Linked DNA regions of Homo sapiens. The protein of the gene in region 2 interacts with the protein of the main gene of each other region in a biochemical or structural test. Each region holds a gene or a part of one and is shown on either strand. Other genes may lie near its edges.

Region 1 (3,949 bases), on a different chromosome or scaffold from region 2:
CCCGGGGTGATGGCTGTGGGGCTTGGTGCTCCCAGAGAGCTCAGTGGCTACAGAATGGGTGGGGATTCTGCGTGTCTCCCGGAGCCTGAACCCCTTTCCTGGTTATGGCCGGTAGCTGTCTCCAGGGCTAACGTGGGCAGCGCAGGGGGGCGGAAACCGGGTTTTAGCCAAATGCCTCGACATCGCCGCGCCTCCGCCTCCTCGTCGCTGAAAGAAATGTCGGGGTTTCATCAGAGCTAGGGAGCGACAGTCGGGAACAGCGAGTCTGCCGAAGCCGGCTGTTGTGTGAGGGTGTGAGACGGCGGGGCGGTGAGGGGCCACCGCGGCTTGGGGGATAGTGCGTGTGGGGTTGACCGTGTGTCTGCTTGAGAGGCTGTGAAGATATGGGGGGCAGATATGGGAGAAATGCTCGGGCCTGAAGTCCCCAGCCCACCGTGCTCAAGAGTAGCGGACGTTTTGCCACCATCCTTGTCTGTGCTACTGTCTGCTGCAGCTTCCGTGCCCCGTTCTCCTGGAGCAGGCAAGACCTGGAGTGAGGTGCTTGGGTGCGCTCGAGAGAGCTTCCCCCTGCTCCACCTGTCCCGCGGTGCGCGCAGGCCAACGCGTCGGGCAGTGGGCTTCAAGCGCTGGTTTAGCCACAAAAGACCAGAAGTAAAGAGTTCCGGCTTAAGAGGCTGGGCAGGGCTGCGGTGGGCTGGGGAGGGGGGTGTCCCTTCCCAGCACGCCCTGCAGGGCTGTGCGTTCTGGTGTCGGGTTAGACTAGCAGGCGGGGCGGGGGGGTTGGGGCGGCGGGGCGGGGGAGACTAGGGCTTATATCAGCCCAGATCCAGGCAAAAATGGTAGGGAGGGTGCGGCGCTCTGCTAACACTATCAATTATGCATCATGTTGAACGTGGCTTCGGGGAGGAGGCGGCTAGCAGCGGGGGGTGCGGGAGGGAAGGGTCCGCGCGAGCTCGGCTGCGCGCAGCTCAGCGGGTCCCGCTCGAAGTCTGTCGGTGCCACCGCCTGCATTTGCAAAAAGAGTTTAAAGGCAAAGACACGCCTTCCCCCCCCACTTCAGCCGCGCGCCTTTCCTTCCCCCAAATTCCTCAAAGATGGTTTGTCTCACGTGTTGCAGGGCGTAAAAGCGGCTTGCATTCAATTAGCAGCGAAGCTCGCGGGCGCTGGCGGGACAGGCGCGTGAGGGTGAGTTCGCGTGAATGTGTGTATGCGTGTGCGAGAGGAGAACGGTAAGTGTCCCGGGTGCAGGTGTGCCCGTGAAAATGCGTGTGAATGTAGCAGGGGCTGAACACATTGATGCGATTATTACCTGACCATGGATGATTGTAAACTGTGAAGGTCGGCTATGGGGAGGGTGTGAGGGACTGTGTGCGCGAATGTGTTTGAACGTGGGGTGGGGGAGGTGGTGTGATCAGGGACAGTAACAATGCCAGCGGCTGTGTAAATGTGGGGGTACGTGGGTTATGGGGGTGCAGTAGGCTGCGAAGAGCCCAGCCAGGACAGTGGGCGTGGGATGCCCCTTATGACCGACGTGTCTTGGCCTTGGGGAGGGTCTCCGTGGCTTTAACAAAAGTAGACCAAGCAGGAGGCGGGAGAGGCTATGCGCGTCCCCGCCAGGCCCGGGAGTGCGCAAGGACTTTCTCCAACCTGCAGCCAGAGAGGTGGGGGAAACGGACGCAAAAGGAAAAATTGAAGTGGTACTTTGGGGCCACCAAGTCCCCAAACTTACCTGTCCCTTTCTTTGCCCCCCGCCCCCCGTTTTCCCCACAGCCACAACACATGCGTGTATCTTGCTTGGGCTATCTTCCCTGCTCTGCCACGCCGGGTCTGGAGAAGGGGTTTCAGCCCCAGGACATTTACTGAGAGTCGGCGAATATTGGGTAAGCAATGGGGGCCACCCCACAACCTTGACCCAGGTGGGGTTAGGTCCAGCCTAGGGCACCTGATGGGGTGCGGGGCTGGTGGGGGTGCTGTCTGGCAGGAACCGGGAAGGGAGGGAAGGGACCCTCCCAGAAGAGCAAAGGCAGAGTGAAGGAGCAGGTTCCCAAAGACAAGTTGTGGGAGGGGCTCTGCCAAACCTGACAGGCGCTCCAAATGGGGGCAGGGAGTCTGTGCAAGTTCGTTTGTGTGACCGGGCTTAAGGTGTTATGGGGAGGGGGTCCTTAGGCACCGCAGAGCTGTGGAGAAAGGCGCAGAATCTTTCATCTTCTCCAGCTTCATTAGCTAGTGGCAGCCCCATGACCTGTTGGCTGAGGACGCCTCTGCCCAATGGGAGCCGCCTGAGGGACCTGAGAGGAAGCTCTAGTGACCGCTTTCCCAACACACCTGGTCCAAACATGGGGGAGAACCTCCTTCCCCGTAAGGAAGGTTGGCAGAGCAGCCCTTCTTCTCCCCTCACAGGAGCTGCAGCCCCGGGCAGGTGACTTTGGCCTTAGATGCAGTAGGGCATGGGGATGGGCTTCCCCAGATCCCACATCTCAAGTCGTGCAGTGCAGGTCCTCCTATTGCTTCTCTGCTGGGTTTCGGTCACAGTGGAGGGCTGTATGCACACACAGGCACATGCCTGTGTTCTTGTGGGTGGGTCGGTTCGTGTGAGGACTTGTGTCCTTGTGTCTGTCAATTGTCACAATGGACAGGAAAGCGCTTTGTACCGTGGTGGAAAACACGTACAAATGCTGGTTAAGAGAACAATGAGGTCTGCAGGGTCTATTGTGTCCATGTCTGGGTGCATATGTGTTTGTGAGTTTAGGAAATGTGTTGTGAGCCTCCTAATTGAGCATCAGGTCCTCTAAACCCCTGCAGAAGTTGGCGGTTTGATTATGAAGCCCCGCGTCTGTTTGTATTGTTGTGTGCCTGCATGGGCGTGTGTGCGAGTGCTGTGCGTGGGACAAAGGTTCCAGGGAGGACAGCCAGTCACGGACAAAAATGTCCTTCTTGGGTAGGATCCATTTCACCAGGTTAAACGAAGGCTTAGAAACACAGAGAGGGGTACGTGAGGAGCCCGCTGGAGATGGGCGAGCTGCGGAGCCCACGGAGGGGCCAGCTCCAGCGTGAAGGAAGGAGTAGGAAGAGAAAAAAGGGCGATATACCGGGCCGCTGGAAAAGGAAATTAGGGCCCTGGGAGGGAGCATCCGTTGAACCTCGAGATTTTTATTGACCTTCACTTCAGAGAGGCTCCTGGCCATAGAGGAGGTTACCGGAGCCCTGGAACTAGTGCTAAACGGGCTTGCGGAGGCACAGCTTGATAGGGGAGGTAAGCTGGGGTTCAGTGAGTCACCTTCTTTCTTCTTCACCTGGCTTCCATCTGCAGGAGCCGCGATGTTCCCCCTTCGGGCCCTGTGGTTGGTCTGGGCGCTTCTAGGAGTGGCCGGATCATGCCCGGAGCCGTGCGCCTGCGTGGACAAGTACGCTCACCAGTTCGCGGACTGCGCTTACAAAGAGTTGCGTGAGGTGCCGGAAGGACTGCCTGCCAACGTGACGACGCTTAGTCTGTCCGCGAACAAGATCACTGTGCTGCGGCGCGGGGCCTTCGCCGACGTCACACAGGTCACGTCGCTGTGGCTGGCGCACAATGAGGTGCGCACCGTGGAGCCAGGCGCACTGGCCGTGCTGAGTCAGCTCAAGAACCTCGATCTGAGCCACAACTTCATATCCAGCTTTCCGTGGAGCGACCTGCGCAACCTGAGCGCGCTGCAGCTGCTCAAAATGAACCACAACCGCCTGGGCTCTCTGCCCCGGGACGCACTCGGTGCGCTACCCGACCTGCGTTCCCTGCGCATCAACAACAACCGGCTGCGTACGCTGGCGCCTGGCACCTTCGACGCGCTTAGCGCGCTGTCACACTTGCAACTCTATCACAATCCCTTCCACTGCGGCTGCGGCCTTGTGTGGCTGCAGGCCTGGGCCGCGAGCACCCGGGTGTCCTTACCCGAGCCCGACTCCATTGCTT
Region 2 (3,500 bases):
TTTTTTTCAGAGACAGGATCTTGCTCTGTTGCCCAGGCTGGAGTGCAGTGGTGCCATCATAGCTCACTGCAGCCCCACCTTTTGAGCTCAAGCGATCCTCCCACCTCAGCCTCCCGAGTGGCTAGGGACTACAGGTGCGAGCCACCACACCAGCCTCAACTGCCTTGGTGTTTCTGACTAGCCCTGAGGACAAGCACTCAGGGAGGCCTTGTCTATTGGGATCTGCCCTGTACAGTCCTAAAAGGGAAAAGATTCCCGAGGCAGACGTATTCCTCTGGTATGTGAATACTGTAGCTGGGATTGGGTAGAGCAAGGACTGAAGAAATTATTCTTTGCCAAGATTTGCCAATAAGGTCACATGCCCCAGGACGCTTGGGTGACCCTCGCTTCTCATTGTGTAAGTATCCCTAGAAAACTGTAGAGAACTGCAACGGAGCTTTTCATGGGTATTCCTCGGAACATTATTTCTCCACCTCCCCACACCCTGAGCAAACCAGCAATCTCCAAATTAGCAGTGAGGAACGCCTGCAGTTCTTGCAGTAAGGATGGAGGGGAACCCATCCACGGACTGCATTTCTGCTCTTACTCTTGCTCCGCCTTCCTCTTAAAAACATAACTGATCGGGGTGAAATTTTATTGCTCCTTTAAGAGAAGCTTCACTGTAAAGGATGGTATAGTAGTGTTGCCTCTGCCATCACCCCCACCTCAGGCATTTTCTGGTACCTGTTCCCAGATTTTACACAAACCAGGCGGATTCACGCCGGTGCCAATGTCAGTGGCCGCATCCCTCCGGCCGCATGGGGGAGCCAGAGCTTAGCAGGTGACCCGACCTGGGCTTGAGCCCTTCGTGGGATTTTCACAATGCAGCAGGGAGAAGGGAAGCCCTTTCTTTCCTCTGGGGTCTTTAAGCTGTAATAAAAATGTGAGTGGAGTTGATATCTCCCACTGCATAGGAAGCTTTCTGAAGCAGAAGAAAATGAGACTAGTATATTGAGAGCAAAGAGTCAAGAGTTAGAGTTCTGATGGCGTGTGTACCTGGATGCAGGGGCCCTTGAGGCTGGATCCCGCCCCGCTTTTTGTTTTGCCTAGGCTGGTTTCAAATGGGCTGGTAGAACTTGCAACAGAAAGAGCTCCGACTGCGGGAGCCACAGTCCTCCTGGAGTTCTAGAAGTTGCTTCTCCGGTCACACAGAGAGCAAACAAAATAGTCAAGGGAGACTATCATCCACCTTAGAGCTTGCTGGAGAAGTAAGGCAGCTTAAAATGGATGTCTGGTTATGCCCTTTTACTTAAACTAAGTTCCTTTTTTGGTAGCATGAGTTTGATAATTTTTTAATTTTTATTTTTCGTAGGATAGTTGTGAGGCTCAGCAATTCAAAATGTATAAAAAGGACAAAAACGACCAGGCGCGGTGGCTCACACCTGTAATCCTAGCACTTTGGGAGGGCAAGGTGGGCGTATCACCTGAGGTCGGGAGTTCGAGACCAGCCTGACCAACATGGAGAAACCCTGTCTCTACTGAAAATACAAAGTTAGCCAGGCGTGGTGGCGGGTGCCTGTAATCCCAACTACTTGAGAGACTGAGGCAGAAGAATCACTTGAACCCGGGAGGCGAGGTTGCGGTGAGCCGAGATGGTGCCATTGCACTCCAGCCTGGGCAATAAGAGTGAAACTATGTCTCAAAAAAAAAAAAAAAAAAAAAAAGACAAAAACGTAAGTGTATGGTATAATTGTGAGGTGTTAGTTGATGGCAAATAAGTGTTTTCTTTTCCCTTCTCCATACATGCTGAGATGATGTTGTCCTTCAAATATGAAGATAATTATACAAGATAATGCCACTTGAAGGGAAAAATTTCCAGGAACAGTAGCTAATGTCTACTGAGTGCTAACTATGTATCAAGTAATTTTTACTTGCATTACTTTATTTCATCTTTATGATAATTACATGCTACTTTTATAAGGTAGAGAACAGAGTTGAGGCTAACAGCAGTGGTTTTCAGTCCAGGGCAATTCCCCAGCTCCACACCCTTAGGGGACATTTGGCAATGTCTGAAGATGCTTTTAATTCTCACGACAGGGGGGATGGGGGAATGCTACTGTTATATAGTGGGTAGAGGCTGGGGATACTGCTAAACATCTTCCAAAGCACAGGCAGCCCGCACAACAAATAATTATCTGGCCCCAAATGTCAATAGTGCTGAGGCTGAGAAACCCTGACTTGCAGAGAACTCAGCCACCCTGGCTAAGGAATTCACACTCTTTTTTTTTTTTTTTTTTTTGAGACAGGCTAGAGTGCAGTGGGGCAATCACAGCTCACTGCAGCCTCAATCTCCTGGCTCAAGGGGTTCTTCCACCTTAGTCTCCTGAGTAGCTGGGGCCACAGGCATGCCTCACCATGCCCAGCTAATTAAAAAAATTATTTGTAAGAAGGAAGTCTCACTGTGTTGGTCAGGCTGGTCTCAAACTCCAGGACTCAAGTGATCCTCCTGCCTCAGCCTCCCAAAGTGCTGGGATTACAGGCATGTGCTACTGCACCCAGCCTCACACTTTTTTTTTTCTTTTTTTCCATTTGGGAAGTCATTTCAAAGCTGATTTATTAAAAGAATATCATGCTTTTTCCACTTGGGGCTGGGGCCAGCATTTAGCAAAATTCAGAAAGGAGACATTTTTTTCTTTGCTATTCCTCCTCTTGTTCCTTTTTAATGCTCTGTTCTGGAGTGGTCTCCTCTGTCCCTAACTTATGGTTCTACAGCCTTGGTACTTAGGAGAATAGATCCCACCTCATTCCTTCTATCCTACTTCCAAGTGCCCTTAAAATGTACTCATCCATCTCCCAGCACTTAGGGAATCTGAAAAAATAATCCATGCTCCCAGGAGAAGGCTACAGGGCTTTGTGTCCTTTTACCTTCTTAGCCGAGCCTCCCAGTAAAATAATAATAATGCCTCCAAGCAGACAGGATCTAAATTATCAGCTAAATGTTCAGTCTTAAATGAGGAGACTGATGCCATCACAAACAGCTTGGTGGGGGCTTGGAGGTGGTATTTTGGGACAGAAAGAGAGAAACGTACGCTTTTAACCCCTATGCTATACTGTCTCCACTGAGGGCGCAAACACAGACACACACACTTTCACTCGCACCCACATATGCACACACATACACACACCACAGGTGCACACACACCCTGAAGGTGGGTTCAGGTGTTCAGCATTATTGTTCTTCCAGTTTCTCAGATTCTAGGATGCTGCTAACAAAAGCATGGCAGGGACTGGTTTTTGTTCCATGAATCCAGGGGAGGGGCCTGTATGACTGCCCTAAGGCTTCACCTTGCGGGAGCCGCAGTCAACAAAGCAGGCTGAGGATTTAACGTTTTACCATCCTTGTGCAGTGCAAGAGAAGCTTGTCAGCCTAGGATGTCTCTTAAAGTCTGTGCCACAGACCTTGTTCCAGATGAGGACAGGTGTCGGGATTCCGATGACCTCACAGCTCAAGTACACCTGGG

The links.
Region 1: the proteins of IGFBP7 (region 2) and ISLR2 interact in a biophysical measurement, tested with the Homo sapiens proteins (one large-scale study listed by IntAct).

What each region holds. Positions count from the first base shown.
Region 1 is NC_000015.10:74,129,437-74,133,385, forward strand, and holds the start of ISLR2 (immunoglobulin superfamily containing leucine-rich repeat protein 2 precursor), read left to right. Parts: upstream 1-1,149; 5' UTR 1,150-1,185; exon of another isoform or gene 1,186-1,338; intron 1,339-1,379; exon of another isoform or gene 1,380-1,661; intron 1,662-1,770; 5' UTR 1,771-1,880; intron 1,881-3,310; 5' UTR 3,311-3,318; coding exon 3,319-3,949. UniProt on the Homo sapiens protein: Required for axon extension during neural development.
Region 2 is NC_000004.12:57,037,386-57,040,885, forward strand, and holds part of IGFBP7 (insulin-like growth factor-binding protein 7 isoform 1 precursor), read right to left. Parts: coding exon 3,439-3,500; intron 1-3,438. UniProt on the Homo sapiens protein: Binds IGF1 and IGF2 with a relatively low affinity. Stimulates prostacyclin (PGI2) production. Stimulates cell adhesion. Acts as a ligand for CD93 to play a role in angiogenesis.